Homo sapiens: one gene and its partners. The protein of the gene in region 5 interacts with the protein of the main gene of each other region in a biochemical or structural test. Each region holds a gene or a part of one and is shown on either strand. Other genes may lie near its edges. The genes, in order: NTRK2, PKN2, SYNPO, MET, NCK2, DOCK1 and TLK1.

Evidence for each region.
Region 1: the proteins of NCK2 (region 5) and NTRK2 form a complex in vitro, tested with the Homo sapiens proteins (one study listed by BioGRID).
Region 2: the proteins of NCK2 (region 5) and PKN2 interact in a biophysical measurement, tested with the Homo sapiens proteins (one study listed by IntAct).
Region 3: the proteins of NCK2 (region 5) and SYNPO form a complex in vitro, tested with the Homo sapiens proteins (one study listed by BioGRID).
Region 4: the proteins of NCK2 (region 5) and MET form a complex in vitro, tested with the Homo sapiens proteins (one large-scale study listed by BioGRID and IntAct).
Region 6: the proteins of NCK2 (region 5) and DOCK1 form a complex in vitro, tested with the Homo sapiens proteins (one study listed by BioGRID and IntAct).
Region 7: the proteins of NCK2 (region 5) and TLK1 form a complex in vitro, tested with the Homo sapiens proteins (one large-scale study listed by BioGRID).

The regions. Positions count from the first base shown.
Region 1 is NC_000009.12:85,015,729-85,019,228, forward strand, and holds part of NTRK2 (BDNF/NT-3 growth factors receptor isoform a precursor), read left to right. Parts: intron 1-3,500. UniProt on the Homo sapiens protein: Receptor tyrosine kinase involved in the development and the maturation of the central and the peripheral nervous systems through regulation of neuron survival, proliferation, migration, differentiation, and synapse formation and plasticity.
Region 2 is NC_000001.11:88,827,273-88,830,772, reverse strand, and holds part of PKN2 (serine/threonine-protein kinase N2), read right to left. Parts: intron 2,293-3,500; coding exon 2,150-2,292; intron 1-2,149. UniProt on the Homo sapiens protein: PKC-related serine/threonine-protein kinase and Rho/Rac effector protein that participates in specific signal transduction responses in the cell.
Region 3 is NC_000005.10:150,647,160-150,650,659, reverse strand, and holds part of SYNPO (synaptopodin), read right to left. Parts: intron 2,717-3,500; coding exon of another isoform or gene 2,385-2,716; coding exon 357-2,384; coding exon of another isoform or gene 327-356; exon of another isoform or gene 1-326. UniProt on the Homo sapiens protein: Actin-associated protein that may play a role in modulating actin-based shape and motility of dendritic spines and renal podocyte foot processes.
Region 4 is NC_000007.14:116,755,696-116,759,195, reverse strand, and holds part of MET (hepatocyte growth factor receptor isoform b preproprotein), read right to left. Parts: intron 1,760-3,500; coding exon 1,657-1,759; intron 1,559-1,656; coding exon 1,422-1,558; intron 738-1,421; coding exon 576-737; intron 1-575. UniProt on the Homo sapiens protein: Receptor tyrosine kinase that transduces signals from the extracellular matrix into the cytoplasm by binding to hepatocyte growth factor/HGF ligand. Regulates many physiological processes including proliferation, scattering, morphogenesis and survival.
Region 5 is NC_000002.12:105,852,912-105,856,411, reverse strand, and holds part of NCK2 (cytoplasmic protein NCK2), read right to left. Parts: intron 1,365-3,500; 5' UTR 1,349-1,364; coding exon 1,123-1,348; intron 1-1,122. UniProt on the Homo sapiens protein: Adapter protein which associates with tyrosine-phosphorylated growth factor receptors or their cellular substrates. Maintains low levels of EIF2S1 phosphorylation by promoting its dephosphorylation by PP1.
Region 6 is NC_000010.11:127,447,428-127,450,221, reverse strand, and holds part of DOCK1 (dedicator of cytokinesis protein 1), read right to left. Parts: coding exon 2,677-2,794; intron 1-2,676. UniProt on the Homo sapiens protein: Involved in cytoskeletal rearrangements required for phagocytosis of apoptotic cells and cell motility. Along with DOCK1, mediates CRK/CRKL regulation of epithelial and endothelial cell spreading and migration on type IV collagen.
Region 7 is NC_000002.12:171,045,894-171,049,393, forward strand, and holds part of TLK1 (serine/threonine-protein kinase tousled-like 1), read right to left. Parts: intron 470-3,500; coding exon 281-469; intron 1-280. UniProt on the Homo sapiens protein: Rapidly and transiently inhibited by phosphorylation following the generation of DNA double-stranded breaks during S-phase. This is cell cycle checkpoint and ATM-pathway dependent and appears to regulate processes involved in chromatin assembly.

The DNA of each region.
Region 1 (3,500 bases), on a different chromosome or scaffold from region 5:
TGAAGTGGTGGGACTTGAGCTTGCCTTCATAAAGGAGACCTTTGGGAAGTAGGGAGAAAGGGAAGAAGATCAAACTTTCTAAGAGGCATGAGTAACTTGGCCCTGGGTAGGAAGCCACCTAAGCTTGCTGGCTGAACACAGAGTGTGTGTGGAGACTGGAGAAAGCAGAAAAGCAGAGTGGTCCATCCTAATGAATACAGGATGTCCAATGGGGAAAGGTTTGGTATGTGGCTTTAGGTAAACTACTTAAACTGACTGACTTTTAGGGGCATTACTTGCACTATCCAGGCAAGTCCATGTCTGCTGTAGAGCATAACTGTTGGGTTCAAGTGAGATAATTGAATAGAAATTCTTCGTAAATGTTGAAGACTGAGTGTTGATGGATGATTACGGTGGCACTGAGGTGGTGGGTGATTCCGGAACCACGGCGTTTTTGTGCTGGAAGTAACCAAGGGCTGCCCTAACTCTTCACATTTTACCAATAAAGACAGAAGCCAGACCTGAGGGTACCTGCTCAAGCTGGTTAATAGCAGCAGCACAAGAACTAGAACTCCAGTCTCTTGGGTTGAGGAAAATAAAAATTGCAAGTCCAAGTCAACTCTCCAGATAACTGGGTTTCTCATCTTGCACCAGGTCAACCTGGTGAGTTTAGTGAAGACCATGAGACCCCATTCAACTTAATTACTGGAGAGCCCCTGAGGCCCCACAGCATATCAGGCTGAGAGCAGGAATTCTGACTCTCAGTGTCATTCCTGGGATCACATTCCATCTCACAAATATTTAAGCAAGGGCATGAGGGCAAGTTGCCAAGTAGTACGATACAAAACAAATGTCTCATTGTGTTTGTTGCTGCACAGTGTGTTGTTTGTGTGGTCCAAAAACCATCAAGTGACTATAACTAGAATGTGACAGTAATTTGTAACAACAGTGACTTTTTTGGGGGGAGGGTCTACTTTTGTGACATGCTTCAAAATTCTGAGAAAGGGTTGCAAAAGAAATGTTCAGAAATGTACTAAATGGGCTTAGAAAACTTGTGAACCCTGTCTGAACTTTTATTAGATTGTCCCACCACTCACCCATTTGACATCTGAACAAGGAAAGCATTATTTATAACAGCATGCGTGAAATCCCAGAAGGGATTCTTGAAAGAATTAGAGTGAAAAATCTGCCCCAAAGAGACAGCAAGCAGAAAATAAATGATCAGATGAGAAAACATGTAAATCAAAACGTGAATCTTTTGTTCTCTCTCTCTTCTTTAAAGGAAACAGAAGCTTTTTCTTGGCTATTAGCAATTCAGGATAGAGAACCAGTATCAGGTTTTCTATCTTGCATTGCTAATGACCAAAAAAAGTGGGTGCTGCTATCAAAGGAGCCACTTGGTTAAGGCCAAATGAAGAGTTCAGGAGAGTGACATATGATGATTCTTCTTAATGTCTCCAGAATGGCTGCTTCTGGAGTAAGTAAGAGAGTGAAGGTTCCAGAGAAGAAAGCCACACCTCAAAAGCATTAATACTTTAAGACTTAGAAAACACTTTCACAAATGCCTGCTTGAGTAAATACCTCCCAACAACATTAGGAGGTATACATTATTACTTACATATAATTATTAAACCTTGGCCACAGAGAGATTTGGCAACTAGTCCAGGTTACCCCAGTAGGAAACAGGTAAGTGAGCGATTGGAAACCAGCTATTGTCATCCACTGCATTGCAGCTGTGAATATCCAGGTAGATATGGAAATCCTGAGATCTTGCTAGATTAACACACCTCAAAGTGTATTTTTAGCTGTCTTACCTGAGACATATATAAATGGTTATCTCTCCCACAAACATACATTCAAATAGTTTAATTTACCAAAGTTAAGTTTGTTCTTTCCTGCCAAACTCCTCACATACTTTAATAAGCCTCAGTCCCTGATGGATCTCCTTGAATTGAAGAGGGTTGCAATTTACAGTACATTTGACATATTTGATCTAGGAACTTCTGGGGTTGTTAAAATAACACAACTCAGACAGCATAACAAGAAGACCAGGTCCCAGTCTTTATTTTAAGATTCCTACTTCTCTAAGCCCACTTTGACCACTGGGGTTCTATTTTATCTAACGAGAAAGAACAGCAACACCAAAATGCACAGTGGAGCTGGTTGCACCATAGCACTATGCTGACATGAACAATGATGAAATGAGCTCTTCTTTATAGGGTAGGAAGAAGGTTAAAATGAGAGAGGTAAGGTTAAAAATAAGATGTATAGCAGAAGGGATTATTTTTCCCTTTGATTTCATCTTACCCATTTTTTTTTGCATGTTAGGTAAGCAAAACAATGCCATGTTTGTATCTTAAGAGGTTCCCATAAAATGCTTGCTGTGTGGATGAAAATGGTCTGTTAAAATGTGTAGACCTCTGTCCTATCTGCACCACCCAGGCAAGGTCACATAATTGCCAGGAGCAATTTCATCATCTGTAGGCTAGAGGTGCCACCAAGAGTCCTGAGTTCTTTATGGTTTGCTCACACAATTAAATGACACCAGACGTGTATAGATGTTTTCTAAACCATATGGTACATTCCAATTATGGCTTCAGAGAATGGCAAGGAGACTAGAGATGCTTTATTCTAGGGGTTAACAATCTTTGAAAATGTGTGTGCCAAAGTGCCCAGCCTTTTCTGGCACATAAACAGAAGGGTCATTTGCCCACCTCTGCAAGGTGGCAGCAGCATCCCTGCATGGCCCAAAGCAGTCCTCTCCTTGGCATTGCCATGTGGGCTGCCCAGACCTGGTGAGATCATTCTACCCTCATACCGCAAGTCCTCCAAAGCATCTGGAAACAACAGGTCCTCTGTGTATGTCAGCAGATTCCCTCTCCCAAAGTCCTGGGCACCTGGGGGTCACAGAGTTATAAACAGGGCAGATATTTGCCAAACCAGAAATGTGCTGAAATAGCTGCACCCATATTTACTACCCACATCCTTTCTGGTTGGTCAGTGTCTGTGCCACACTGATTGCAGTTTGAGTATCGACCCTGAGGGTGACTGTTGCCACCACCTTCAGACATCAAGTAAGACCATAAGAGAAGTCTCTGTCCATTGAACACTGATGACCTGTCACTGCTGAAGGAAGAGTGAGGAAATCTAAGGCCAATGGAAGCCAACTTAGCCTTTATGAGCTTTTTGTTTATTAAAAACTGAATAGTAGAGATGGGTCACCTGAGCCAGAAGTTTTTGTCCCTATTTGTCAAATTTGGATGCATCATACAGAGAAGAATGAAATAAAATATCCTCCCCCTTTTGTACTCTTGTGCTTTCTTTGGTGCTAAGAACATCACTGGGAATCACCAAGCATGTTAGACATCTCTGACATTTCAGCCTCTTGGGTTCTGGGGTAGGGGAACATTTTCCAGACACTATTAGTTTATTTTCTTCCTTTAATAAATACTAACTGGATATTGAGATTAGAATTGGGCAGAAACTCTATGCACCATTACTCTATAAACTCAGGACCCAGA
Region 2 (3,500 bases), on a different chromosome or scaffold from region 5:
AAATAGCCAGATCCACTGTCTTTTATCTTCTAGGTAATTAAGAGCTCAATCAATTAGCTCTTTTAAAAAACATGAAACAGGAGCTTCCTTGTTTTCTGCCAAACCCTCCAGTGGCTTTATAATAGGAGGGAGTAGATTCAACTGGATTAATTCTACAGTATTTTGTAATAAACTCATATTTTGCACATGTCATCTCTAATATGGAGAGTAAATTTTAAGCAAGCACATAATTGAATCTCATAAATCTCATACTTACTTGAATACTACATGAAACAAAACCAAAAAAACCCTCCAAAATGTTACTGTTAAAATAAAGGAAGGGGGTGGGGAGGAGTTCAAGTATGCCAGAGCTTACAGCAGATTAACTATTTTATGAGAACTTCTGGCACTCTCAGAAAGTAAAAGCCACTGTGGACTGGAGCTAAAATAAATCTTTCCAACCTAAACACTGCACAACAGCTTTTCTAAATAGAGGTGAAAAATTCAGATCTGGACCACTAGTCTTAAGAACAGAAACAAGGCTGGATGAATTGAAGATCCTGTCCTGGAGCAGCAAAGCATAATGCTTTAGATATGCTCTGGAGCCAGAGTGACAAGGTTAAAATTCCAGCTCCACCATATGAGAGCTGTGTGACTTTAAGCAAGTCATTAATCTCTTTGTGTCTCTATTTACACCTCCGAAAATGGGCAGAAGATCAGTACTGAGCTTATTAAAGGCTGTTGCAAAATTAAATGAACTAATATTTAAGGCATACAGTACAGTGCTTAGCACATGATAAATTTTAATTAGCCATACTTCTCCTCCTTTTCCAAGGAATCCACTTCAAATTGACATACCAAAAGGGGTTATCCATCCGGCGAAACTAAAACCATTTGTTTGGGGTAAGTGCCAATAAATGACAAGCATAGAACAAAACTTTAGAAATTTCTGATATTCAATTTGATAATTTGTTCATTCAGCACTAACTTCTTCAAACTTACAAGTGTACAAGGGAGGTTGCTGGCATGGGGAAACTGCAGAATAATGAACCAATCCCTTAAAATAATTTTTCTTGCATCTCCAGTTCAAGTCCCTTCAAGTAATCTTCAATTACTTATTAAAAGATTTACTCTTTCCCAATTTCATCCCAATTCAACATTTCTAACAATTTATAACATAATAAATTATTAGTCTCCTATTATTGCCTTAACATAACTCACTGTTTCCTAATAGTAATAATTTCTATGTACAACTCAATTATCCTCAGAAATTTAAGTTAATCTACAGAAAACAGTAGGAAAAAATGCGAATTTTTTCAACTCTACCATTTTTTAAGGTAACACTTCTTTCATTTTTTTAAAATTATATTTTATTTAACAATCTAGGAAGTTCACAGCCATCAGCAGTTCTATAGCAACTTCAGGTGCAACTGGGAATTCAGGAATCTCGGTGGAGCTGTTGGTGTAGCGAATACTTTTGATAGCACATGTGAAGGTATCTCTCTCAAATTGACCTCATTGGTTTCATTCTCAGCAAATTGACCTGGGCCACTCAACATGGCTTTTATCGTGCTGATGTTAATGTACGTTCTGTTTTTACAATAAATTCATGGCCATCGGATGATATCAATTTGACATACATGGCATCAGGGCCTTCACAGCTACCATAGGTTTTCTCCTCTCTCCATCCATTTTGTTCTTACGAAATTCTACTTTGCTTCCCCAGGAACTTCAGTAGTTTCCCGGTGAAGCAAGGATGCAGAGTGTGTTGCTCAGACGGAAGTCTGGAGGAAGTCGAAGGTAACATTTATTTCTGACCAATCTATAGTGGGCTTTTCTTTACAGGTACAGAGTACATTCCTTTTATTAGTCTTTCTGTTATTCCATTCCCTATAAAATGACTATGTCTTAAAATCAGAAAACATAATAAAAGTACAATACTGAAATACAAGGAACTATTTTCAAAGCACTGATAGTGCATTCCACAAACCACATAAAAATCTTTATTGAAGGTATTACAGAAAGATAGCTGACTACTAGTATACTATAAATATTTATAAAACTTAAATTCCACTCATACTGAAGACAGTATTAGGTGGTTTTATAAATGACATGCTTTATTATTTCAATCATCCTTCCTCTGTTCTCTTACCTATTTCACACTGCTTACCTCACCAACAAGCATTTCATATATAAGCACGCCAAGGCCCCACCAATCTACAGCCCTTGTATAAGAAGTTTCTGTTAATACTTCTGGGGCAAGAAATTCAGGAGTGCCACAAAATGTGCTTGTTCTATCTCCATATCCCATTCCTGGAAAAGATAAAATGTAAACATTTGTTAGCAAAGAAAACAAATCTAGCATAAAAAAAAAATCAAAGCTATCTTTGGGAGGCAAAATTAAAGTTGCACATTTGTGCATGGTGAACAAATTCAGACATATCTAAGACATTTCAAGAAAACAGTAAGGACTGGTATAGCAAAAACTGCAATAGCAACTATACTGTCTAATTAATGGGTAAATAGAAATAAGATATCCATGTTTCTTTTCAGTTACTTTTTCTTCTTGTCATTACAAGGGAGCTAAGAAATTATAACAAAATGAACTGATTGTGAAGTTCCATTATCTTTCCAATTCAATCTTAAATAAGTTTATTTACTTCATTATAAAATCAACATTCTAAAAAAAATAAGTTTCAAAAATACCAAAAAGCAAACCCTTGGATAATCAGAAGCTGACCAAATGTGTCATATAATACAGAGAGATAGGGCCGTGTGCAGTGGCTCATGCTTGTAATCACGGCACTTTGGGAGGCCGAGGCGGGTGGATCACCTGAGGTCAGGAGTTCAAGACCAGCCTGGCCAACATGATGAAACCCGTCTCTACAAAAAAAACAAAAACAAAAATTAGCCGGGCATGGTGGCTCCCGCCTGTAATCTCAGCTACTCGGGAGGTTGAGGCAGGAGAACTGCTTGAACTTGGGAGACGGAGGCTGCAGTGAGCTGAGATTGTGTCATTGCACTCCAGCCTGGGTGACAAGAGCAAAACTCTGTCTCAAAAAACAAACAAACAAAAAACATATATATATCTCAATATATATTATATATAGAGAGAGAGAGAGGAGGGGACGGGAGGGGAGGGGAGAAGAGGGGAGGGAAGGGAAGGGAAGGGAAGGGAAGGGGAGGGAAGGGAGAGTACAGGTTGAACATCCCTAATCCAAAAATCCAAAATCTAAAATGCTTCAAAATCTGAAACTTTTTGGGCACCAACATGATGCCATAGAGAATTCCGCAAGTACTTAAGATTAGTTTCATGCACAAAATTATTAAAAATATTATATAAATTTACCTTCAGGCTATGTATAAGGTATATATGAAACATATATAAATTTTGTGTTTAGACTTGGGTCTTGGCCTCAAGATATGTCATTATTTATATATGCAAATATTCCAAAATCCAAATAAATCTGAAATTCAAAACATTTCTCATTCTAAGCATTTTGGATAAGGGATACTCAGCC
Region 3 (3,500 bases), on a different chromosome or scaffold from region 5:
TCAGACTCTGCATCCCTACAGCTCACAAAGGCCAGAGGATGCCCCTCTACCGCATCAGGGCTGCCAGACAGTTCTCTCTCCATGACCCTCCTCCCCGCTCAGACATGGAGTCCGACCCCTGTTGTAGTAGGGGAGGGGCGGCTTCAGCTCAGAGAGGGGAGGCGACTCGCCCAAGGTCACAAAGCCAGCTGGTGGCCGCATCTGACCTTGAACCATGGACTCCCCATTCTCCTCACTCAGCTCTGTGCCATTTCCTGCCACATCTGCTCTCCATCTGGCCCTCAAGGAGGGGAACTTGACCGGCAGTGGGACCCCCGTGGGGTTCGTTACTTGAAGCAGAAGGAAGGCTTCCACACCTGAGCCTCGATCCCGGCGTTCCGGGTAGAGAAGGAGGGCCTGGGGGCCTGCTTGGCTCGGGGAGACCACGCCCTGGAGGGAGACACGGGGGAGATGTCACCGCCGTAAGGAGGGCTCACGGCAGTGGGCTGCAGGCTGTCCTGGCCGGGGGAGGTGTAGAGGCCCGGTGAGGAGCGCGAGGGCCGAGGCAGGGCAGGAGATGGAGGGAGAGCCCCCTTGGGCAGGTTGGGCACCAGGTCCAAGGAGCTGGGCTTGGCGGGCGAGGCAGCTCTTGGTGAGACCTTGGCAGGCTCCTTGATAGGTGAGAGGACAAAGAGCGAGGGGCGCAGCTGGTATGGCGGCTGCTTGGTGGGCTCTGGGCGCAGGACCCCGTTCTCAGGCAGGTAGCCATGGTAGAGGGAGGCAGGCGGGGTCCGGGCTGGGCTTCGGGATGCCACTCGGAAGGCCCCGGGGGCGTTAGTGGGGTATTTCCAGGAGGAAGGCAGGGACATGGTAGGTGATGGGCAGCGGGCCAGCTCTGGCGTGTGGCTTGAAGACTCGATGACATATTTCTCCATCCGTGACTGGCGGCGGGCGTAGAGCTCAGCTCCCTTCCCAGAGGCCTCGGAGAGGTTCTGGTTGGGTTTGGGCTTCGGCTTGGCCTGGATGCGGGGTGACTTGAGGCAGGAGGCCCACTCTGGTACCACCTCCTCCGCCGCCGCGGGGCTGGCCCTGTCACGAGGTGCTGGCTCCTGCTGGAAGTTGGAGGCCTCGGCCCCCAGTGCGAAGGGCTCCTCCTCCACGCCTACCTCCCCCTGGTCCCTCTGCCGCCGCTTCTCATCCGCTGTCTGTACCAGATCCAGCAAGTCTGGATTCGGGGTCACCTTGGGCTTCTCCACGAAAGTAAACATGGATTTGCGGCTGCCCCGGCGGGCCATCGACTCCTCCAGAATGCCCGTCTTGCTGGCAGGAACCGCCTGGCCCTTCAGATGAGAAGACTTGGGGTCGGAGCTGGGATACAGGACAGAATATGAGGGAGGAGACCTCACCCAGGAAGCCAGAGGGGCTGTGGACAAGGTCTCAGTGTAGGTGGGGGGTGCAGTGAAGTTCCCCAAGGGGCGTCTCTCTGAGGCCGGGCTTCGCTGCCCCATCATCCTCCTTTCCACCATGGGGCTGCGGGACATTATGTGTCTCTGTGGCCGGGGGCTCCTGTCTGGCAAACTGGGGGGCTGGGGAGCCGGGGCCTTCTCCCCAAAATGTCGTCTCTCTAGCATGGGGCTCCTCTCCATCTGGCTGGTGCCCCCTGGCGCCTGGATCCCAAAAGGCCTGGCCGTCCTGTTGACCACTGATGGGGGCTTGGCCAGTGTGAAGTGGACCTCACTGTAGACCTTGGTGGGCGTGGTGGCAGCTGCTCGCCCAGACATCTCTTGATCTGCTGACACCACTAGGGTGTTGGGCTGGATGTCAATGAGCAGGGAGCTGGACATGAAATCTGAGGCTGGGGGCCTGGAGCTGGGGATGAGCGTAGCTTCTCTGGAGAAGGTGCTGGTGGTGGTAGCTGGAGTTGATACCTTGTCAATTAGGAGTGTGCTGCATCTCACCTCCTCAGCCGGTGCCTGGGGTTGCCCATCAGCACACAGGGTGCTGGGTTTGGAAGCAGGCCCTGTGCCATTAGATGGGAGTTGGGCCTCTGAGGAATTCTGTTGGATGCTAGAAAGTGGCAGGCTCTGTGGGACAACAGTTGCCGGTGGGTTCTGATTGACATCGGTGGCTGGCGGATTGTGGCTGCTGTTAGAAGTTGGTGTGGTGAGCGTGGCACTGGGCGAGGCAAGGTTTTGGTTGACATCTGCAGCTGGGCTGTGGACCTCAGCTGGAGGTGGGGCCGGTGAGGACTGCTGGGCCTCTCGGTTTTGGGACAGGTGCAGCCCATTGGCTGTCAGCAGTGCTGCATTCTCCTTTAGATAAACCACCAGTGGTACCTCTTCCTCCTCACTGGCCACCTTCTCCAGGTGCCGCAGCAAGCTAGCCTCCTCTGAGTACCCCTCCATGCTGTGGCCAGGGACCCCTCTGTCGGGGCTCTGGGGACTGGGGTGCCGTGGAGGGCCTGGCTCCGGCAGCGAGGTGGAACTCAGGCTGAGCCCCGGTGCATGGCCTGGGAGGCTTGAAGGGAGCACTCTGAGGGACTCCTGGCTGGGCTTCTGTCCCCTCTGGCCGTGGCTCTCCAAGGTGAACTCGTTCACCCTCTGCCGGCGCCTGTTGAAGAGCTGGACGCCACGGGAATTGGAGCTGGGAGGGGTGGTCAGCTGGGCTGCAATCTGCTGGCTCCGCGCCTTGGCTTCTTTCAGATCCTTCTCCGTGAGGCTAGTGCTCCGGCCCAACGCTACAGGGAGGGACAAAAGCCCAGTTAGCAAACAGGAATGCAGTGACACAGGGGTGCACGGACAAACAGGCAGACAGAGATGGTCGCCTCGGCCCTTCCTACACAGGATCTCTTCTGGAATTTAATCGTCACTCACTGTTTCTTAGAATTAGCTCACTTCGTAATCAGCCCTGACCTACCTTTCATGGCCCAACTCAAATGCCACCACGTCTACGCCACCCTGATTATCCTCTCAGGATTAACTGGTCCCTGATTTGGAATCCCCCTGACAGTTGCTGATATGGCACTTTACCAAACTGAGTACGAACACCTCACCCTAGAAGTCCCACCGTGTCCCCAGTTCCTCCCCACTGCCTTCTCCTCTCTCACTAGGCTCTGCCACACTGGCTTGCTTTCTCTTCCTTGAAAATGCCAAGTATGTTCCTGCCCCAGGGCCTTTGGACTTGCTGCTCGCTCTCCTTGGAATAATCTTTTCCCAGGTAGCAGTCCATGCTGGTTCCTATCTTGCCACTCAAGTCTCAGCTGGAATGTCCCCTCTCTGGAGGCACCTTTCCTTCTCCTATCCCATCTGTTTTGTTTTCTCCATAGCATTCACCAAGTTGAAATGATCTTTATGTTTCCCTGTCTATTATCTGTCTCCTCACCTACAGCATAGCTCCAAGGGGCAATGACCTTGCCTGACTTTTTTTTTTTTTTTTTGAGAAGGAGTTTTTGCTCTTGTCGCCCAGGCTAGAGCGCAGCGGCGCAATCTCGGCTCACTGCAACCTCCGCCTCCCAGGTTCAA
Region 4 (3,500 bases), on a different chromosome or scaffold from region 5:
AAGCTTAAGAAATGCATTTGTATTTTATTCACCGAATTACACAAAATAAATATTTCACCTCTGAAAAAAATACAAAGAAAACCGAACTTAACTATTGTTGCTAGACTGATAGAATTAACGGAAACAAGGCAGATTGAACTGGGTCCAATGAGATATCAATTCAAAGAGAGTCTGGCATAAAGAAAAGCTGTGTGTAAAGCAGGCAGGACAAAAACATATCTAGAGAATGGAAGAAAAAAGGTAATTCCACTTCTGGGCACTAAGGTTAGTATAGAATTGATATGTACATAATGTAAGTGCATGTATACTACAATGCCACATTAAACTATTTTGCTATACTCTGTTTAAATGTAATAGAACAGGATAAGATACTTCTTGGAATGAACTAGCATTGATAAGTCAAACTACACTCAGAACCTGAATATAGTTTTCTCTCCTGAATTGGAAAGAAGCCTTCAAAAGCAACATAACAGCATCAAAGCCAGAGATAAAACTGCAATTCCTCTTGACTATTCTACAGCAAAATCATCCTTGTATTCATTGTTTTCTTATACCCATCAGAAGCTTCTACTTACCTAATAAAAGATTTGGTTGGATGAATTTCATAGACAATGGGATCTTCACGGTAACTGAAGATGCTTGTCTCTCGGTTGGCTAAGTCAATTTTCAATTTAACAGCAAACTCAGTTGAAATGGTTTGGGCTGGGGTATAACATTCAAGAATACTGTTTGACACACTGAACAAAAAAAATTAAGGAAGTGAATTTTAGCTATTAGAGATACACATATTTTAGAATTATATCCACAAATCAAAAGGATATAACTCAATGGTTCCTAAGTGGGAATTTCCTGAGTGGAAGCCTTTTCTAGTGTAGGCTGTTTAATCTGACTGGATCTCAAACTTACCTTTGTTGTGGACAAGCTATCCTTGACTGGAAAACATTTGAGATTTGAAAAAAAAACCTTTAAAGTACTTTTGGTACTTGATTAAACTGAGCTCTTCCAACTCTAAGAAGCAGAAACATAACTGTCTTCCAGACCCAATTTTCCCCATTTCTTCCTTCCCCAGAGTGACTTAGTCTAATTACAAATCTTGATGAAAATGTTTATTTTAAATTATTATCAATGACCAGACTCTCACAGCTCATAGTATAGCTAAGATCCTAAGCTATAACAATAAAGAGGGTGGATGGGAAGACAAAACTGAAAAGTAGGATTGCTAAAAAACAAGAGAAAGGAAGAAAAATCAGCAAAAGGAGTAGATGAATTTTGGAAGGAGGAAGTTTTGTCAGTAGGAGAGTAAACAAATAAACATCTTGATTTTTCTTCTCCACACACACACACAAAACAATCTGCTTAATTTTTAAGGTACAGATATTAATTCAAATTGACAGATGCAACAAAAAATAAATTTACAACACCTTTTTAAAGTACATGTTTTTCCACCAATTGAAATGTGTCTAGAATTCCCACTGTTTAGGTAATTTCCAGTTAAAGTAAGTAAAGTGCCACCAGCCATAGGACCGTATTTCGGCGAAATACTTGTTATTACAGGATCCTGGAGGGGAGATAAAAACAAAACAAAGTAACTTGTTCATCTTATAATTTAAATAGATTAAGTAAAAATCAAACATGATAGGATAGAATCTTCCTTACCACATAGGAGAATGTACTGTATTGTGTTGTCCCGTGGCCATTTGAAATAATTATGGACATATTGAAATGCTTATTCATGGCAGGACCAACTGTGCATTTCAATCTGGAAAAAAAACCCAAAGTTTAATACATGACAAATCCAAGGAATTTTCTGGTTAGGTTGTTTTATAGGAAGTGACATTAACTCTAAATGGTGAGCTGACTGCTTTGAATAGCAAGCAGAGTTTCAAGATAAGCATTAAGGCCAAAAATTATATAATCCTATTTCTATACTATGATAAACTTAACTTTTATTTTTATGTAAAAAGAGACAGGATCTTGCTCTGTCACCCAGGCTGGAGGGCAGTGGCATAGTCATAGCTCACTGCAGCCTTGAACTCCTGGGCTCAAGGGATCCTCTGGACTCAGGAGTTGGAACTAGAGGTGCATGCCACGGCATCTGGTTAATTAAAAAAAAATTTTTTTTTTTTTTTGGTAGAGATGGAGTCTCACTACGTTGCCCAGGCTGGTCTTGAATTCCTGGGCTCAGGTGATCCTCCTGCCTTGGTCTGCCAAAGTGCTGGGATCACAGGCGTAAGCCACTGCACCCTGCTTATACTAAACTTTACATTAATGGTACTATAGCACTTATACAGACAAACAGGAAATATCAGACCTTATCCATAAAGACCTCACCAGTTGAATAGTGCATAATAATCTAAGTTTGGATAATATTAATATTTGGGGATAATCTTTGGTCCACTTCAGATGCATATGAAACAATGGGCTAACTACAAATAGGCCAATCTCTTCATTAAAGTATGTCAACAGGTACATTTCTGTGGTTATACTTGTACATGCTTATTTAAATTACTTAAATGATAATGAAATTGTGATGGCTTTCCATAGAATTATTTCTGAATGAATAATCATATAGTTCTGAGAAAATTTAAATACAATTTGATTTATTAAATAACTTTTTAAAGGAGAGAATGAATTATGCTTTACTTTTACAGGTCCTGATTTATATGCAATGATTAAGAGTTTTGGAGATTTTACAAGGGAGATTTCTAGAAAAAATTTGTTTTGCCATTCAGCTAACAAATATTACCTTCATTAGTGTTTTGGTCTCAGTAAAATGGATAGATTCGGACCTTTGTGTAACCCTGAAATGAATTCTATTAGATATAAAATAACCACCTGATAGAATGGGTTCAATCATAAAGATTCAACCATAAAACTTTAAATATTTGAGTGTTGTTATTATGTGATAATGAATAATTTCTGGATTCTCTGATGATTATGGAATTCAAAGCTTGTAGAAGGGTACATGTAGAATACAGTAGAACTAGCACGGGTCTTGGATCAGAAGATGATCAGAGCTGAGCTGAAGGCTTGTTCAGCTCTTACTCTCTGGATTACCTCTGTGAAGCCACACTTCATCTCTCTGAACTTCAGGTACCTCTTTTATATTATAGGAATGATACTGCTCCCTCCCAGGACCGTGGGGATGGTTCAGTGAGATACAGCCCATATATTGCAGTGCCAGTAAATATAAGCTGAATATAAATTTTAACTCATCTAAAAAAGTCTCAAACACGTGATTCAGCTGCCTCACTACATTTCTGAGGTTTAGAAAGTGAATTTAAAAGAGAGGATCCATGCTGAGCTGTTTACTGATTTCTGTAGAAAAAGCCTTTGGAGACTCTACATTTGAAGACTCCAAGGATGAAGTGATCCCAACTAGTGCTACTCTTGCAAATCTACTCAGACAACACCTGAAGACTTGTCGCATAAATGGTTGAGAAACTCCCATTTCTGGCCTCTTCTCTTCACCTAGGCCATGTCACCTTTCTCTCTCTTCA
Region 5 (3,500 bases):
TCATTTCACTAGCAAACCCTTAAGTGATAACCTGCAGTCTTGGATACAGACAACATTATACTCATAAGAAGGTAACAACGTTTTAAATGTCAGCTCAGATGAGTCATTCTTCAAAAAAGTCCTCGCAATTATTTTCTCAGGTAATCTGAGGCAGTAAATACTGTAAGTCAGTTCCGTGTGCATGTAAAGGCAAGACTGGATACTGTTAACTTTGTGTAACTCCAGGAGGGCACTGCCCATAACCTGACAACACCTGGGAAAACAAGAGGCACATGGGGAGCCGGGCACGGTGGCTCACGCCTGTAATCCCAGCACTTTGGGAGGCCAAGGTGGGCGGATCACAAGGTCAAGAGATCGAGATCATCCTGGCTAACACAGTGAAACCCCATCTCTACTAAAAATACAAAAAATTAGCCGGATGTGGTGGTGGGTGCCTGTAGTCCCAGCTACTCGGGAGGCTGAGGCAGGAGAATGGTGTGAACCCAGGAGGTGGAGCTTGCAGTGAGGCAAGATCGTGCCACTGCACTCCAGCCTGGGCAAGAGTGTGAGACTCCGTCTCAAAAAAAAAAAAAAAAAAAAGAGGCACATGGGGACAACAGTATGGCTGAACTAGGCCCCCACCATGGAGCGGCCTCTGATGTCACAAAGCTGCCCTCTTAGCTAACGGCACCCAGGACTGTGGTGTGATGTAGCATCCATTTCAGAGAGGGAAAAAGTGCTTTGGCTGTCCCCTGCTCTAGGCACGTAGGCCAAATGGACAGGATTGTATAAGAGAGAAAGAACTTCATGTCACGACACTGGCAGAGCTGGGTAGACTTAGAGGTGAGAATTCCAAGTCAGGCTCCTCTAACGTTTTGATACAAGGAGATACCTGTGCAGGGGTCCCAAGCACACAAAGTGTCTCCATACACAGGACCCCAAACTCCAGAATCTCCAGGAAATGAAAAACATCCTCTTTCTCCATCTTCATCTCTTAATTCTTAGATTATTAAAAAAGACAACTAGGAAGATATTAACTTTTAAAACAGACTTTTTTTTTTTTGAAACAGCAAACTAACTAGAAAGACGAACAGTGTCCCTTGAAATGCACAAGGCTTCCTCTCTCGAGGGTGAAACACTCACCTAGTGTGTCCTTCAGGTTCTTCACGAGGGAGCCCTTCTTCAGGCTGTTCTTCCGCTCCACGTAGTTGGACGGTACATAGCCCGTCCTGTTGGCCGCGTTCCTCACCCGCCACCACGTCTTGGAGTCGTCCAGCAACCACAGCCGCTCGTTCTTCTTGATGTCCAGCTCCTGGTCCTGCTGGGCGGTGTAGTCCCACTTGGCTATCACAATAACTTCTTCTGTCATCTTTCATGGAGTCCTTCTGCCAGCAAAACATTTGGAGATGCTCATTAGAGAACTACCCGGACACTTCATCCTTTGCACCAACTTGAAAAATTAGGCACTGACAGCTTTTATTACAACTCTGCAACCAGTTTTCTCCTGGGTCTTGAAATGCTCAACTTTAAAATGACCTTCTTTCAACAAGCTTTAGTATTTGGTTTAGAAACAGCAACCTTATAAAACAAATCTTATGTTACTGTTTGCTGTACATGGGGAAATCTGACCCTCTAACAAAAACAAACTTGAAAAAAATTCTAAATAACATTATAATTAAATGAGTCCATTTCATTAAGTAACACTGCCTCCTGATAACTGTTAGGTTGACACTCATTTTCTCAGGATATGCTGTGTCTTATAAACATATTTAATAAGTCAACATAACCAAACTACTCCTATAAATTAAAATTAACATTGTACTAATAACAAGGTGGTATCCTGGATTGGATCATGAAACAGAAAAAGAAAATTAATGGAAATACTGGTGAAATCAAAATAAAGTCTAAGAATAATAATAACAATAAATAATTGTCAATCTCTTAGTTTGGACAACACACCAGTAAGATGTTACTGCATTCACATAAGATGTTAACACAATGAGAAACCAGGTAAAGGGTATAAGGGAAAGTTCTGTACTATACTGGGAACTTTTTTATAAATATAAAATTATTCCCCAAAACTTTCATTCACACAAAAACCTGTGCAGAGACGTCTGTAGCAGCTTTATTCATAATTGCTCAAATTTGGAAGCAAGCAAAATGTCCTTTAGTAGGACACAGTTTATAGATACATAAACTGTGGTATATCCAGACAATGAAATATTATTCAGTACCAAAAAGAAATGAGCTATCAAGCCATGAAAAGACATAGCGGAACCTTAAACGCATATTGCTAGGTGAAAGAAGCCAATCTGAAAAGGCTACACACTGTGTGATTCTGACAGTTTATCCTTAACCAAACTTCAGCCAAATTCCTTTGAATCTTCTTCCCTTTAAGGCCTCAACTTTTGCACTTCCGTGTCCATCTCTGCATTGCCCAATTTTTGCAAGACTCTCCTGCTAAGGTGCTCTAGCTGGAATCCTCCACTCTCAACATCTGATCAGGTTCCTCATCCTCTACCATCCCCCAGGTGACAGCTGATCACCCTGTCCTGCCTTCAGAAGAATCCTGTTCGGTCAGTTTAGCCAGAATCCCCACGCTCCACCCCTGATGTTTCCTCTTAGTAATTTTCCACCCACCAACTCCCTTATTTTGCTCCTTGCCTATAAATGCCCACTCTTCCTTGTTGTCTTAATATTAGGAGTCAAACCCAATCTCTTTCTTGACTGCAAAACCCTACTGTAGTAGTCCCTCTGAATAAAATCTGCCTTACTGTTCTTCAACAAATGTCATGAATAAGTTTTTTCTTTAAAACGGTATGACATACTGGAAAAGACAAATCTATGGAGACAGTAAGAAAATAAGTGCTTGCCTGGGGCAAGAGGGAAGGGAGGGATGCAAGGGTGAAGCACAGGATTTTTAAGGCTGTGAAACTACTCTGCTCAATACTATAATGGCGGACACCTGTCATTATACATTTGTTAAAATCTATAAAATGTGCAACATCAAAAGTGAACATAACATTTTTCCAAAATGAAAAGTTTATCAAAACAACAATAAATAGATGCGTGTATTATATATCCAGTAAAGTCAATTTTGGAAGTAATAAATAGCAAAAGTGTGGCTGAATAAATAAAATAAATAATCAACTATTTTAGCAACTCTCTACTTCTTAGGTAGAAGATGAACCAATATTCTTTAAGCAGAAAAATTCAATATTCAGTCCTTAAACTAACTAGACATTTCTCCAAACTAGGGAGAAATGAATGATGAAAACACTCAGGACTAAAATCCCCTTCCTCCCTGACAGAGAAGTTCTCATTATTGTATAGGGATGACTTTAGGATTACAGGGGACCTATGCACATTGACTCCATGGAAGCATAAATACCATTTTTAAATAACATATTTTCTACTAGATGCTAAAAAAATTTTTTTATAAATAATACACGTTTCTTTCATGAATTAACTTCCAAATTTAAAGATAACAAACCTTTTGGGAAGGAGGAAAGCCTCTGCAT
Region 6 (2,794 bases), on a different chromosome or scaffold from region 5:
AAAAATGACCTAATGCTTAACACAGAGAGGAGAATAAATGTGGAAAAGTAAAGCTGATATAAAGATGTCCTATGAGTGTATGACCTTATATTAAGGAAGGTAAAACAACAATTAAGTCTTTTTAAGGTTGGTTAGAACCGTTAAAAGAGACATCTATTTTGAGGTCTGATGAAACTGTTTGTTTACATGTGAAAGCCACACTCACTGATAGGCCAATGAGGAGCAGGTAAGGACCACACTAACACAGCCTGATACCAACACAGCGCTGCAAATGACCTCTATGCCAAGTATGAGCATGTCAAAAGTTTATCACCATTAAGCAAAATGATTAATGGTGATAAACTCAGTAAGCTCAGATTACTGACAGGAAGAGCCATTTGGAAAGAAATGACAGCTTAGTGGCAACAACTAAAGACAGAGTTGCCTACAAGCCTGAGGCTGATCAATGAGAGTGACAGGAGGATATTGATCACACCCCCATCATGGCAGATGGATGATCATTATCCTAGAACAGCTCTCAGGGCCTGTGCAAAGGGAGGCACCCCAGGAAATGCAACCGCTTCTGCCTAATGATGACATACTAACCACCAGCGTGTCACCTGAGCATGCACTCAGGCTGCAAGTAAATTAAACAAGAAACAAAGACCAAAGACACCTGGGTCATTAATCTAATTGAATTCACACGCCCTTTATCAATTGAGAGAGAGCTAATCCATGTTATCCCTTACTTAATCAACTGTATGTGGCATCAGTAACCCACAATGGTGTATCCAAGAAATTGAGACAATAAAATGTTACCCCGGAGTTGATTTGTAACAAGAAGAGGAATTGGCTGTAATTCTAAGTTTAGAATTTTCAGTTTACTAGTGTAGGGAGACTAGGGGGAACATTCCTGCCTTTGCAATAAAATAGAGAGAAGAGAATGTGACCAATTAACGAAGCTGTTAGGGAAACAATACTCCAAGCAACCCAATATTCTTGTTAGACCCCCCCGAATCTCCTTTTACTCTCACAAGTAGTTAGAAATGGCCGGGGAAGGTCCGGCTTCCATTTCTGTGGTGCAACAAACCATTCCAGCCTGCCAGAAAGCCCTCTTCACAGGGGAACCTGGTGCCTCCTCCAGGACCGGTTCCCCATCGAGGCGTCTCTAGGGAGAGGGAGCCTGTTTAAATGGCACTTGGGTCTCAGAAGAGCAATCTGCCTCTTTGATATTAAAGATGACTGCTTGTTTAGTTTTCTGATACAAAGGGAATGATGAAATACGTATGCTGTACACAAACACCCTCTCTCTTCCACTCCTCTCATAAGGGATGTAATGACCTTGTGGAACACTCCGTCAACGAGTCTCCATTAAAAAAAAAGAAAAAGAAATGGCACGTGGGATTTATATTGTTTATTAAAGAAAAATAAAAAAAAAAACCATGTCTCACCATTATGAAAAAAACAGAGCCACCCAACAATCTCATGTTTTCAATGTTCTACAGGAGTTTTGCGGCCATATAATTACTTCACTAAGGCTGGATAGCAAAAAAAATACGGCCAGCTGTCCACATATGAAGAGGGATATTTTACCCTTCAGACACCACTGATTTAATTGTCAAAGGCTGTGAATAACATGGCCTGGGGAGGCCTGAGCCTAGAAGCAGAAGTTCCCGCCGTGGCTGAGTCAATCGCTCGCCCGCCTCCATCCCACTCATGCTGCCCTCCACACATGCCTGGGCCCGACATGAGGATGGGGCTGGGACCCGCAGGGATGAGTGACGCCTGACAGCATCCTTGAGAACCAGGAGAGGAACGGGGTGGATCTCAAAAGAATGTTTCTAGAACTGTCAACTGGTAACTGAGGTGCTTGTTTAAATGGCTTTTCATGACTTTGACTAATATTTGTACGGGCAGGCAGGCCCAGGGGCTGTTTGGCACAAGGCACTTTGGGTGGCATGAATGACTAAAACAGCTGCTGGGGGGTACCAGCTTCAGGGACTCACGCTGAAGAGGGGTTCCAGCAGGTTGCTTAGGCTTACAAAGGCCAGTGCTGCTGGAGGAAGCCAGGTCAGCACCCCCGAACTAGCACTGGGGAGGGTGCCCAGGGGTGGGGGCACAGTGAGGATGACTGTGCCCAGGAGCCAAACCTGGCTGTCCTCTGCAGTCTCCGTAAGGTGAGTGCCTGTCACCACCCAGGAGCTCCCAGCACCAGGTGAGGCTGCCTGGAGGGATGTTTGGAGACAAGCTTCTCCAGGGCCAAGCAGGTGTACAACAGGTGCCTGCCATACAGGGCGATATTGGCCAACCTCTTTAAAAAGTCAGACCTCTTGATAGAAAAGCTACTTCTCAAAAATCAAAATGTCATTAGAATTGCATCTCCAGTGGAATGATCTCCATGGTGATGATAACCGATGACAACCTTGGAATGTCTATCCTCTTCCTCGTTCTGAGGCATGATATCAAAATGTGCTTTTTGATGCAGTTATTGATAATGACGCAGAGCCACAGATCTTACCCACTGGAGTCCTTACTGCTTCGATATCTTTTTGCAAAATCAAACCCGGGCCCATCATACATGGTTTTCCTCATGTGCTCACTAGCCCGAAGTAAACCTGCTAGTATCTGGAATGAGGGACTCGTCCTACTTTGTGGAGGCGAAGCAATGAAAGCCTGTGTTTCAGATTGCCGACTTACCCTCTGGTGTGGAGGGGGAGGTGGAGGTGTTGGCGAGCCCAGCAAGTCCTGGTTTTCCATCAAATTCCCGTAATCTGCCACGCTGCCTTTGAGAGGCAGAGGGGGTGGGACATCGGCC
Region 7 (3,500 bases), about 65 Mb from region 5:
TAATTGATTCCTAACTGATTCAGACACAGAAGGGTGAATTCTGGTAACCTCTTAGCTACCTAGGTCTCTGTTTTAAAAGAGAATTGTTAAATCTCTGCTTAAAACGGTAGAATTCAGATATTTGGGGCTATTAATTTAGAGCTAAATTTTCAATACTGCCTTCCTTCCTGGTCTTAATCATTTTTGCTATCTAAGTATTAATTATAAATAACATCCATTAGTAACATTCACGCTCACTGGCAACAATTTTAAAAAAGAAAAATTTTAAATGGAGGCTTACAGTTGTGGTAAATTTGGTCTAACAAAGGGATCATTCTCTGCTCCATTGACTGCTTTGTTTTTCCTTTGTTTTGGTTCAGAATTGGTAGAGGGTGCCTGAGAATTATTAGCTGTGGGAGGTTTGCGTTTGGCTAGAAGTTTCCTTTGCCTTTCAATATCTTCCCTTTGCTGATTCACCCATTCTTGTTGCCTGTGTAAAAATAAACAAATAAAACCATATTAACCTTCCATTACTTTTCAAGGCTAAACTTGGAAAAAATGCATAAAAAACATGAAAAACCATAAAATATACATTCGTAACCTTTTGGTTCCACTCTTGTGAACCAATTTGTACTTATCCTTCAGGTCTCATTTGAAAGAATTTTTTTAAGTGAGGTATTCTCTAAACCCCTAGATTAGGGAAAGATGTGTTGCCATATATAATTTCATGGGATCTTCTATCTCCCCACCTCACTCTTTCTAATAAATATTATTCCTATAGATACTTTATCAGAAAGTGTCCGGTTAGATGACATCACTCCCTAAGAACACAGATGGTGTCTATTTATACAGTATTTATACTGTTGTATCCCTAGTACCTAGTGTAGTGATCATCACTTACCTTTGCTCAGTAAATGTTTCTTGAATGAAATGAGATAAAACAATACCCCAAACTATTAAAGTATGGGGTATATGTTACACATGCATCTCACCACAGTATTTGCAAACAAATTTACAAAAGGCAAATATGAATTTAATGTGAAGAGAGTTATTTTCTAAATCTACTTTTGTTAAAAAAAATTGGTAATGGGAAGTTGGTGTTTTGAAATGAGACAAATTAACCTTAATATAAGAAATTTATGAGAAAAATTTTTTTGATAATTTAAGGGGAAAAAGACAAGAAAATAGCAAGAAAAATTAGCATGGCTCTGAAAAATGGGAAAGTAACAAAAATAAAATCAATGCTTCCCATTCAAGAAACTGAAACAATTTTGCAAATAGCTCCCTAATTCTAAAAACGAATAGATACCATGTCTATTATTAAAATGTAGATTAGATATTTTAGCAGTTTGAGCAGAGCATAAAGTAGTTAACAGTGAAGCTTTTTAAAACCAACTTATCATACAACACCTTAAGCTTATTCTAACAGTAACCATGTTCTCTTTCAGGTCACCTCACTATGCCAATAAAAAATTTTCAAATCCTACATGGTTACAATACTTAGAGCAAGTCAAATATTTCATGCCCTCCTCTCCCCAACCACTGACATCAACTAAAGGGCTCCTACTTTGCTAATGCAGAATTGACCTTACACACATCCCCTTCCCTATGGTTTTAGTGATAAAGTAGCAGAATATGATAGGAGTGAAAAAAATCAAGAAGAATCTAGGTAGAAGATTGAAAGGGTAGAGAAAAATCTCAAGAATAGCAAAGTGAGAACAAGACTTTAATCCGGTTTTCATTTAGAAGCAGGAATAAATTTCAATTTTTAATAAGTAAATCTTAAGGCTATTTTAGGGCACAATCAAGATGGTATAAATGCAAATAAGCAATAATAATCCTAATGATTAAAATATTAATGGAAAGTAAAGAATTACTGGAATAGATATTAATAGCTGATTACTCAGGGATGACTATACAGTTTAGAGATTAATATTATTACTTTTATTTATTTCTCTTCTCATCTTCTAACCACTCTGGATTATATCACCAATTATAAACGGCTTGATATACACACAGTAGGTCCTCAATAAATGCTTATTAGTGAAAGTCAGGACATACAAGTAATTATTTTCTTTTTTGACATTATTTTTTGAGACAGACTCTCACTCTGTCGCCCAGGCTGGAGTGCAGTGGCATGATCTCGGCTCACTGCAGCCTCCACCTCCCAGGTTCAAGCAATTCTCGTGCCTCAGCCTCCCGAGTAGCTGGGATTACAGGCGCCCACCACCATGCCTGGCTAATTTTTGTATTTTCAGTAGAGACAGGGTTTCACCCTGCTGGCCAGGTTGGTATCAAACTCTCAACCTCAGGTGATCCTCCCAACTCGGCCTCCCAAAGTGCTGGGATTACAGGCGTGAGCCACTGCACCTGTGGCCTCTTTTCTGACAGTTAAGAGGAGAAATTGGAACTACTAGTAGAATTTATATTTCAGAACATTCATATTAATTATATAACTGTCTCTTTTATTCATTGCAGGACAATTGCCGGTCTGGGTTTAGTAGCAGAGCCTCTTGCTCATAAACACTAAAAAATTATCTTCTCCTGCTTTCCACTTTACTGTTGATATGTTAGTTCATGCTTTAATCACCTTTCATCTGGATACCCCTCCATCTTAACTACCAATAACATTCATCCTCTAATAATATTTTCACATTACCATCAGTTATTATTCTACAACTATCACTGTAGATATCATTCCGATCACGTACACTATATGTAAACCTTTAACAAGTCCCATTATCTGCAGAATTGAAACCCAAACTCTCTAATATCACAAGGACATTATCCTTTGTTTCACTGTGGTATAACTAGCACAGATATGTTGAAGAAAAGTTGAATAAATCTGCTGAGAGAGAAGGCCATTCTGTGGCAAGTCCTAGGAGGCAGTGTTTGAACAGCAATGTTGGTGTGATACCATGTGAAAGTAAGTTCTGCCTCTATTTCAAATAACTGGATACTCTGGAAAAGCTGATGTTCATGCTGGCATTACTCCCCATTTTCAGGTTTAAAAAAATTTTCCACCAAAAACGGAGTAGCATATTTAGCACTCCTTAACACATAAACAGCCAATAAATCCTTTTCTACCACCATCTGAACTCAAGAAAATATGGTAACTATAATTCCTCTGTTTAAAAGTTTGATCTGAAAAGTAACAGAAAACCAAACACCGCATGTTCTCATGTATAAGTGGGAGCTAAACATTGGAGACACATGGACATAAAGATGAGAATGATAGAAACTGGGGGCTACAAAGATGAAGGAGGCAGAGACAGGGGCAAGGATTGAAAAACTACTGGGTACTATGCTCACTACCTGAGTGGTGGGTTCAATTGTACCCCGAACCTCAGTATCAAGCAATATACCCCTGTAACAACCTGCATATATATTCCCTGAAACTAAAATAAAAGTTGAAATTAAAATAAATAAATAATAAATAGAGTTTACCTCAGAAACGCTAAAGCCACATGTTCAGTTTAACTGATAAATCAGTTATTATATCTGAGGCAAAAGAGAAGTTT